2 linked regions of the Homo sapiens genome follow. The protein of the gene in region 1 purifies or fractionates together with the protein of each later gene. This does not show direct contact. Each region holds a gene or a part of one and is shown in the gene's direction. Other genes may lie near its edges.

Region 1 (3,830 bases):
CTATTTCTCAAAGTGTATATTAAAATAAATACGTCTATTTTTAAAAGGGGAGAAAGGAGTGACAAGAGGAAGCTTTGTGATTGATTGTTACATCTACAGTTGGTGGGCATAAATGAAAATTGGGAGATTAAAACCCAGTCCCACAGTGTTCTAACTATCTCTGTATATGCACAGCTCCCAATAAAGTTAGAGTTACAAAAATAAGACAGGATGCCTTCCTAAGAGAGCTTATTGTCTTTCTTACCAAGAAGATCAAACATGCTTGAAACATTTAAGTGACAAGCCTAAAAGTGCATTCAACTCGTTTTCTTCCATGTATTCATGGAACACAAAACCAGTCTTATAAAAGGTCAAAACAGCTTGCTTGCTCCAAACCCTGCCTTCACAGGCATATGCACACATAAGAATTAAGGCATGAAAAACTTTCAAGATAAAAATAACTTTGTGTCTGTTTTGCCTTTGGCTACTGTGTGAAAAGGCAAAAAGAAATTCAAATGTTCATATTGGAAACAAGCATATCATAATGTCATCAGTGTTGAAAGCCAAGTAGAAAATAAACTAATTGATTTTATTGAGCTAACAGTTGGATCTAACCATTTTTCAGGTCTCTGAAACCAGCTTCAAACATTATTTTTAGATCTCAACAGGCCTTGACAAGAATTATCTGGCTCACAGTCTTCTAATAGCTGCTTGGAGGAAAAACAAACTTATGAGGCTAGAGGCCAAGTACAAAGATTCTTGTAGCTGGGGTTTCAACACAACCAAAAAAGGAATGAAGATTTTCACAACACTTCTTTATAATTCAGAGGCCCAGGTTTTAAGCCTAGAATGTTACAGTATCATACTTCAGTTTCTGGGTCTTCAGTACGGAATGTGATTCAGAAAAGTCAAACTTCTCGTTAACAAGTATCAAGAGCTGCAATCTGGCAATCGAAAAATGCTTCTTGAGCACCTGCTGTGTGCCTTGTCCTATGGATAGGAACCCCACCCCCATCACCATGCCACACTCGAAACCTCATAACCATGCTTTTCCCTGAGACACGTATCTGTTAGAAAGGTAAGACCTACACATTTAACACAATTAGAGAGCCCTACAATCTGTGTCATTTAGACCCTGAAGTTCATGCTATTAACAGTAAATGTAAGTCTAGTTCAGAGAAGAAAGAAATTGTTGCAGACAGGAATAGCCAAGACAAGAGTGTATTTTCTCTTAAGTTTTCTGTCAAAAAACTTGAAATCTTCACCCAGTGCTTCAAGGATCTGATTTCCAGTATATCATTTTGCCGTGATTGTTTTGCATTTATTCCTAGCTCTTGCATGAGTAATTCTGTGCTTTGATACATACGAAGAAAAAGTAAAACTTACATTGTAACAATGCAGGAAATTTAAAAAATCCCAGCCAGGCATGGTGGCTCACTCCCATAATCCCAACCCTTTTGGAGGCCAAGGCGGGAGAATCACTTGAAGTCAGGAGTTTAAGACCACCCTTAACAAAGGGCAACAAAGTGAGACCCCATCTCTACAAAAACATTTTATTTTAAATTAACCAGACATGGTGGTGCATGCCTGTAGTCCCACCTACTTGGGAGGCTGACCTTGAGCCCAGCAGTTGGAGCCTGCAGTGAGCTATGATCATGCCATTGCACTCCAGACTGGGCAGCAACGTCTTAAAAAAAAAAAATCCCATTCTCCGTGTCCTTTATACTTTTCTGACTGTTTCTAAATCCCAGTATGTGCATATTGCAGACAGTAAGGTAATACTTGATAACTGAAAGAAGTCTAGTCTGGATCAGCTCTTAGCTTTTCTCCACTCAAATGGAGAAGTAATGGAGGAAAGGTATACAGTCCGATGGCTTCCTAGACACAATTTTGGTTTGAATATGTTTGAACCTGGAAAGTTTAACTCCAGAACTTATTTTCTTCACTACCCTACTATGCACTACCTGCAAAATTTTTATTGAACACGTACATGCTAATCCCTAGAGTAAGCTTTTTAAGCCAGTTCTGTCATGTTTTCTTTCACAGAAACCTATGAAATAAATAAGATGTTTAGTAATGTAAAGTAATTTGCCAGAAACATATGTTGTTTTAAATATAACATCTAAAAGTAATATCTAGAAGAATTGAAAGAAGCCAATATTTTTATAAAGTGCCTGACATGGAGTACAGCATTATTTCATTAAAATTTCATGATAGCCACCCCAAATGTGGGTATTATCCTTGTCTTATAGCTACTAATCTGAAGCCTAGCCAGTCACTTGTCCAGAATCACAATGCTAATAAGAGCCTGGCTGTGGTTTGTGTCTCCTTTAGAGCATTCCATGTTCTGCACTAGGAAGCTCTCCACTGCTTCCTCACAGTTCAAGACCATAGTCACAGAGTTTTCCTGCCTGGTCTGCACACTTTGCTCTAGTCTAACCTCCTAATTGAAGACATCTTTGTTCATTGACCATTTACGCCTTTGACTTGTCTATGAAAAGAGTCAAACTCTGCAAAATATTTGAAGAGATTTATTCTGAGCCAAATATGAGTGAGCATGGACCATGACACAGCCATCAGGAGATCCTGAGAACATGTATCCGAAGTGGTTGGGATATGGCTTAGTTTTATACATTTTAGGGAGACATGAGACAACAGTCAAATACATGTAAAACGTACATTGGTTCAGTCCAGAAAGACAGGACAGTTGGAAGCAGAGGCTTCCAGTTTCTGATTAACAGTTTGCTTGAAGGAATTGTTATTGTCTAAAAACTTAGGAATGCCTTGGGTAAGATAAAGGGTTGTGGAGACCAGGGGTTTATTATCATGCAGGTGAAGCCTCCAGGTAGCAGGCTTCAGAGAGAATAGATTGTAAATGTTTTTTATCAGACTTAAAGAGTCTGTTCTATCAGTAATTCCAAAAGGGAAGAGGGTATAATGAGGCATGTCTGACCCCTGCCCCCTTCCCATCATGACCTGAACTAGTTTTTCAGGTTAGCTTTGGAATGCCCTTGCTGAGAGGAGGGGTCCCTTCAGATGATCAGGGGATTTAGAATTTTATTTTTGGTTAACAGAGTACATTTTCTAGCCATTTCCTGAAACCATTCTCAGCTTCTACCCAGGGTGTATCAGTCAGGACTCATTTGTTTGCAAGAAACATAACACAAACTGGCTCCAACAAAAAAGGGAAGGAATTGCCTCAAATCAGAAAAGTCCAAGTGGTAACTATAGGCATGTCTGGACCCAGTAATTCTAAAAGTATTGTCAGATACTTCTTCCCACCACCTTCCCCCTTCACACCCCTGCTTCCCATTTCTGTGGTAGGCTACACACTCAGTAGGCCTCATCTACGTGGCAGAACTTGGAAATGCCAGGCAAACACTACAGTTGAATAATTCTAGTAGAAAGAGAATGCTTCTTCCCTAATTGTTTCAGCAGAAGTCTGGCTTAGGTCATATCAGCTGACTCCCAGTTTGTAACCCACTTTACATTAGCTTTCAGATACAATTATACTTCAGATACAGTTATTATTTAACTATGGGGAAACAGTCTGAGAAATGCATCATTAGACAATTTCGTCATTATGCAAAAGTCATAGAGTGCACAGTACTTACAGAAACCTAGATGGTATAGCCTACTACACACTTAGGCAATATGATAATGCCCTATCACTCCTAGGCTACAAACCTGCACAGAATGTTGCTACACTGAATACTGTAGATACTTGTAACGCAGTGGTGTTTGTGTATCTAAACATAGAAAACATACAGCAAAAATACTGTATTCTAATCTTACAGGACTACCATTGTATATGCATATATGTGGTCTGACCAAAAAGTCATTATGCAGCA
Region 2 (3,830 bases), on another chromosome or scaffold:
TGACATACAACCCTGACCTGGGCCAGATATAATTTTGGCCAGAACTGATTATTAATTTAAGGATTACTGCACTGTGTCTAAATACCATATGTTCACATTTATATATCTATTATTTTATTTTGAGCTATCATTTAATCTGTTGTTTCATTTTTGGTGTTATTTCTGCATGAAATTGTTGTGTTTTTCCTCCTAGTTTGTTATTGTTTTGACATGTTATTCTTAGATTGTTTTCCCACCCAGAGACATTTTATTTTGAATATTCAGTATTTTTTTGTATTTTTTTATCCTTTTAATTTTTTAAAAAAAATTACTATTTTTTTGTCCAAGGTTTTAGATACCTCAGTGCTAGGTTGCTAATTAAATTTAGCATTATTGTTCTGTTTTCCTAGTTATTGTAGAAAGGATGAAGTATCATTAGACCTTTCTTGTTTGATGTTATTTGTGATTTCGTCCCAATTTGAGATTTGCCTGGATTTGATCCTTGGACTAGTGTGGTCTGATCTAGTTGTACATGGGCTTTTTGTTAGTGTCACCAGACTTAGCAGTGAATCCCATGTCTCTTCTCCACTAAATGTTCTCACCTAACAGTTCCTGTCCAATTTCTTGAGGCATAAGCTTGACAGGAAGCACGTAATGGAATGCATAGTAACATCATAATGCTCTAGGAGAGGATTGGCATTAAAAATTAGGTGGGAATGATACGACATACCTCTTAGTTACTGATTATTGGATAAAAGGATAGCATTCTCTGAGTCTTGAAAAATTAAAAGTTAAGAGTAAATTCATGTCATGCAACTGTTCACACTAATACTTTTTCTCCAGTCAGCTCCCGCTCCCCCACTTTTCTAGGAAGTGTTGTCCAGTTTGATGATCAGAAGTTTGGTTGCAAAAAAATCCTAAAGCTTTGCTGAAACCAAGCAAGGTTAACTCACATGATACCATTCATTCTATTGACTGTGTTTTCCTGTCACAGAAATGTTTCCTTTGACAACATAGATCTGATACTGGTTACTTAAGATTAACAATATTCTTTAGGAATATTATATGATATTTCATTTTCATATTTATTTTCACTTTGAATGTGTCATACCAAATGTTAATTTTAATAAAGGTTTGGGAATTAGCTTGTTAGTTGTTAAGTACACATCATCATTCAATCAAGAATTATTGAAGTGACTTATATGGAAATTAAATATGGACTTAAACCAGATAAATTACTAATTGGTTACCATTCCTAAAATTTAATATAAGAAATTGTAATATATTTGTTTATATGTTTTCACATATTGGTTTTTACTTTGCATATGTTTGAAGTATGTTATTATATACTCAGGTATTTCAGTAATATGTATGTTTTAAAGTTTTTTGTTGTGTTTTTTTGAAAATATTATAGGAAGATAAGAATATCATGCTTACGTAACACTGAATCTGAAATATAAATGTAGTGACATGTCTTTGCTTAAAATAAACTATCAATATTGCTAGCTCCTTTTCAATATTCAGTTTTTTTCTAACATCTTTCGTGTACTTCTTTCTCAGAGAACTTTGCTTAATGAAGGGAATACTGTTAGATTGATATTATTTGCCACAGTTTTTTTAAAAGCTGAAGATGAAAAACATTACTTTTACAATGGTGAATAGCTATTAAATGAGGGAAAAAATACAATATTCGGAATCACTGTTTTTCTGTTTCCTTATAAGATGTCAATATTAGCCATTCTCCTTGGCTCTTCTTCTTTGCTGGAGGGCTATAGTCAGCCATGGTGCCCAGCAGGAATGGCATAATCCTGAAGCCCCACTTTTGTAAGTACTGGCAGTGGCCTATAGCAATATGGTTCACCCAGCCTGCAAGGAAGAGCCACAGACATGGGACTGGGCAAGCCCACTGCATTGCCCGGTGCCTTGTATCTGGACCCACTGGCCCCTAGTAAAATGCCCCACATGAGGTTTCACACCAAGTACAAGCTGGTAGGGGCTTCAGCTTGGAAGAATTAAGGGTGGCCAGCATCCACAAGAAGATGGCCTGGACCATTGATTTCTCTATTGATCCAAGGAGGTGAGACAAGTCTACTGAGTCCCTGCAGGCCAATGTATAACAGCTGTAGGAGTACTGCTGGAAGCTTATCCTCCTTCTCTAGAAACCTCAGCCTCCGAGAAGAGAGACAGCTACACTGAAGAACTCAAATTGGCCATCACACTGACAGGACCGGTAATGTTCATATGAAATACCTATACGAAGGAGAAAGCCAGAGTCATCACCAAGGAGGAAGAGAACTTCAAGACTGCCACGTCAGGCCAGGTGCGGTGGCTCACGCCTGTAATCCCAGAACTTTGGGAGGCTGAGGCAGATGGATCACGAGCTCAGGAGTTCGAGACCAGTCTGACCAACATGGTGAAACCCTGTCTCTACTAAAAGTACAAAAATTAGCCAGGCATGGTGGCAGGTGCCTGTAATCTCAGCTACTCGGGAGGCTGAGGCAGGCGAATCGCTTGAAACCAGAAGGCAGAGGTTGTAGTGAGTGGAGATCGTGCCACTGCCCTCCAGCCTGGGCAACAACAGCGAAAGTCTGTCTCAAAAAAAAAAAAAACAAAAAACCTGCCATATCAATGCCTGGCTCTTTGGCCTCTGGGCAAAAAGGACCAAGGAAGCTGCAGAACAGGATATTGAAAAGAAAAACTAAAGCACTGTTGAGGCCTTGTAATAACTCTGCAGAAAAGCTGGGAAAACGAATAAACCACTGGGAAAATAAATAAACCAAAAAGATGTCCATATTAATTTATTCACTTTATTCGTTTGTCTAATAAGAACCTACCAAACATCTGTCGAATGCTAAACACTATGCTGGGCACTGAGGATACAGTGGCCAATAAAACACACATGCTGTCTGCTTTCGTGGAGTTCACATCTTTGGCAAAGACTGTGCTGTAAGAATTTGCTGAAATTGGTCCCAGAGAATATATTGCCATATTTTCCTTTTTATCCTATGATACGTTCTAATTCTTTGCATCTCTAGATAGGTAGATTGTTGAAAGTTTAAGGGCATGTATATAAAAGCTATCTAATTTGGACATTTGTGTTTCTAATTTCACTGAAATATATATGTGTGTGTCTATATATGTACACACACATATATATTACTACTGGTATATATGTGTGTGTGTGTTTATGTACAGTATAAAAATACTAGGATACCTGTAAAACAACAACAATGTAAATAAGCAGTATGAAACAACATTGAAAAGAATACATAAAATAATTTGTATTTGAATCAATAAAATAGGAATGTATTCATCATGTATGTGTATGCATATATTAAGTATATACAACCTCAGCTATTTTGCTTTCTTTATATATCTCTTGGGAGCTTAAAATAAATACAATCCCTTGTTAGCTCATTTGAGCAGTATGGGATGAATTAAAAACAATAGAGAATTTTGTATGTTTTGTCTTACGTATCTAAATTTGAAGATATGTAGTGTTTTACATTTGCTGTTTTATTAATCTCTCCTTGAATATATCAAGTAGAATACTTTCATTGGGTATGTGTATTGCATTTCTATATGTATTTGTGTGTGTGTGTGTGTGGTGCTCGCTTATAAGAATATAACTGGATAAGTCGTGTTCTTGTTGTGGAGCAGTTTGTTGTCTAGTAGATAAATCAGACAAATTAGCTATGTTGCCTTATCACAAAATAAGATTGTAGTTGCTTTTATAGTAATATTAACATAGTACTGAGGAAACAGGCTACATTTACTCTTGTTTGAAATTTATCCCATAAAAACATTCTTTTGTAAATAAACCATATGTATCAATAAATTATCTTTAGGCA

What was found.
Region 2: the proteins of SETMAR (region 1) and XRCC4 purify together in Homo sapiens (affinity purification with western blotting, with the first as the bait; one study listed by BioGRID). This does not show direct contact.

What each region holds. Positions count from the first base shown.
Region 1 is NC_000003.12:4,306,358-4,310,187, forward strand, and holds part of SETMAR (histone-lysine N-methyltransferase SETMAR), read left to right. Parts: intron 1-3,830. UniProt on the Homo sapiens protein: Protein derived from the fusion of a methylase with the transposase of an Hsmar1 transposon that plays a role in DNA double-strand break repair, stalled replication fork restart and DNA integration.
Region 2 is NC_000005.10:83,199,469-83,203,298, forward strand, and holds part of XRCC4 (DNA repair protein XRCC4), read left to right. Parts: intron 1-3,830.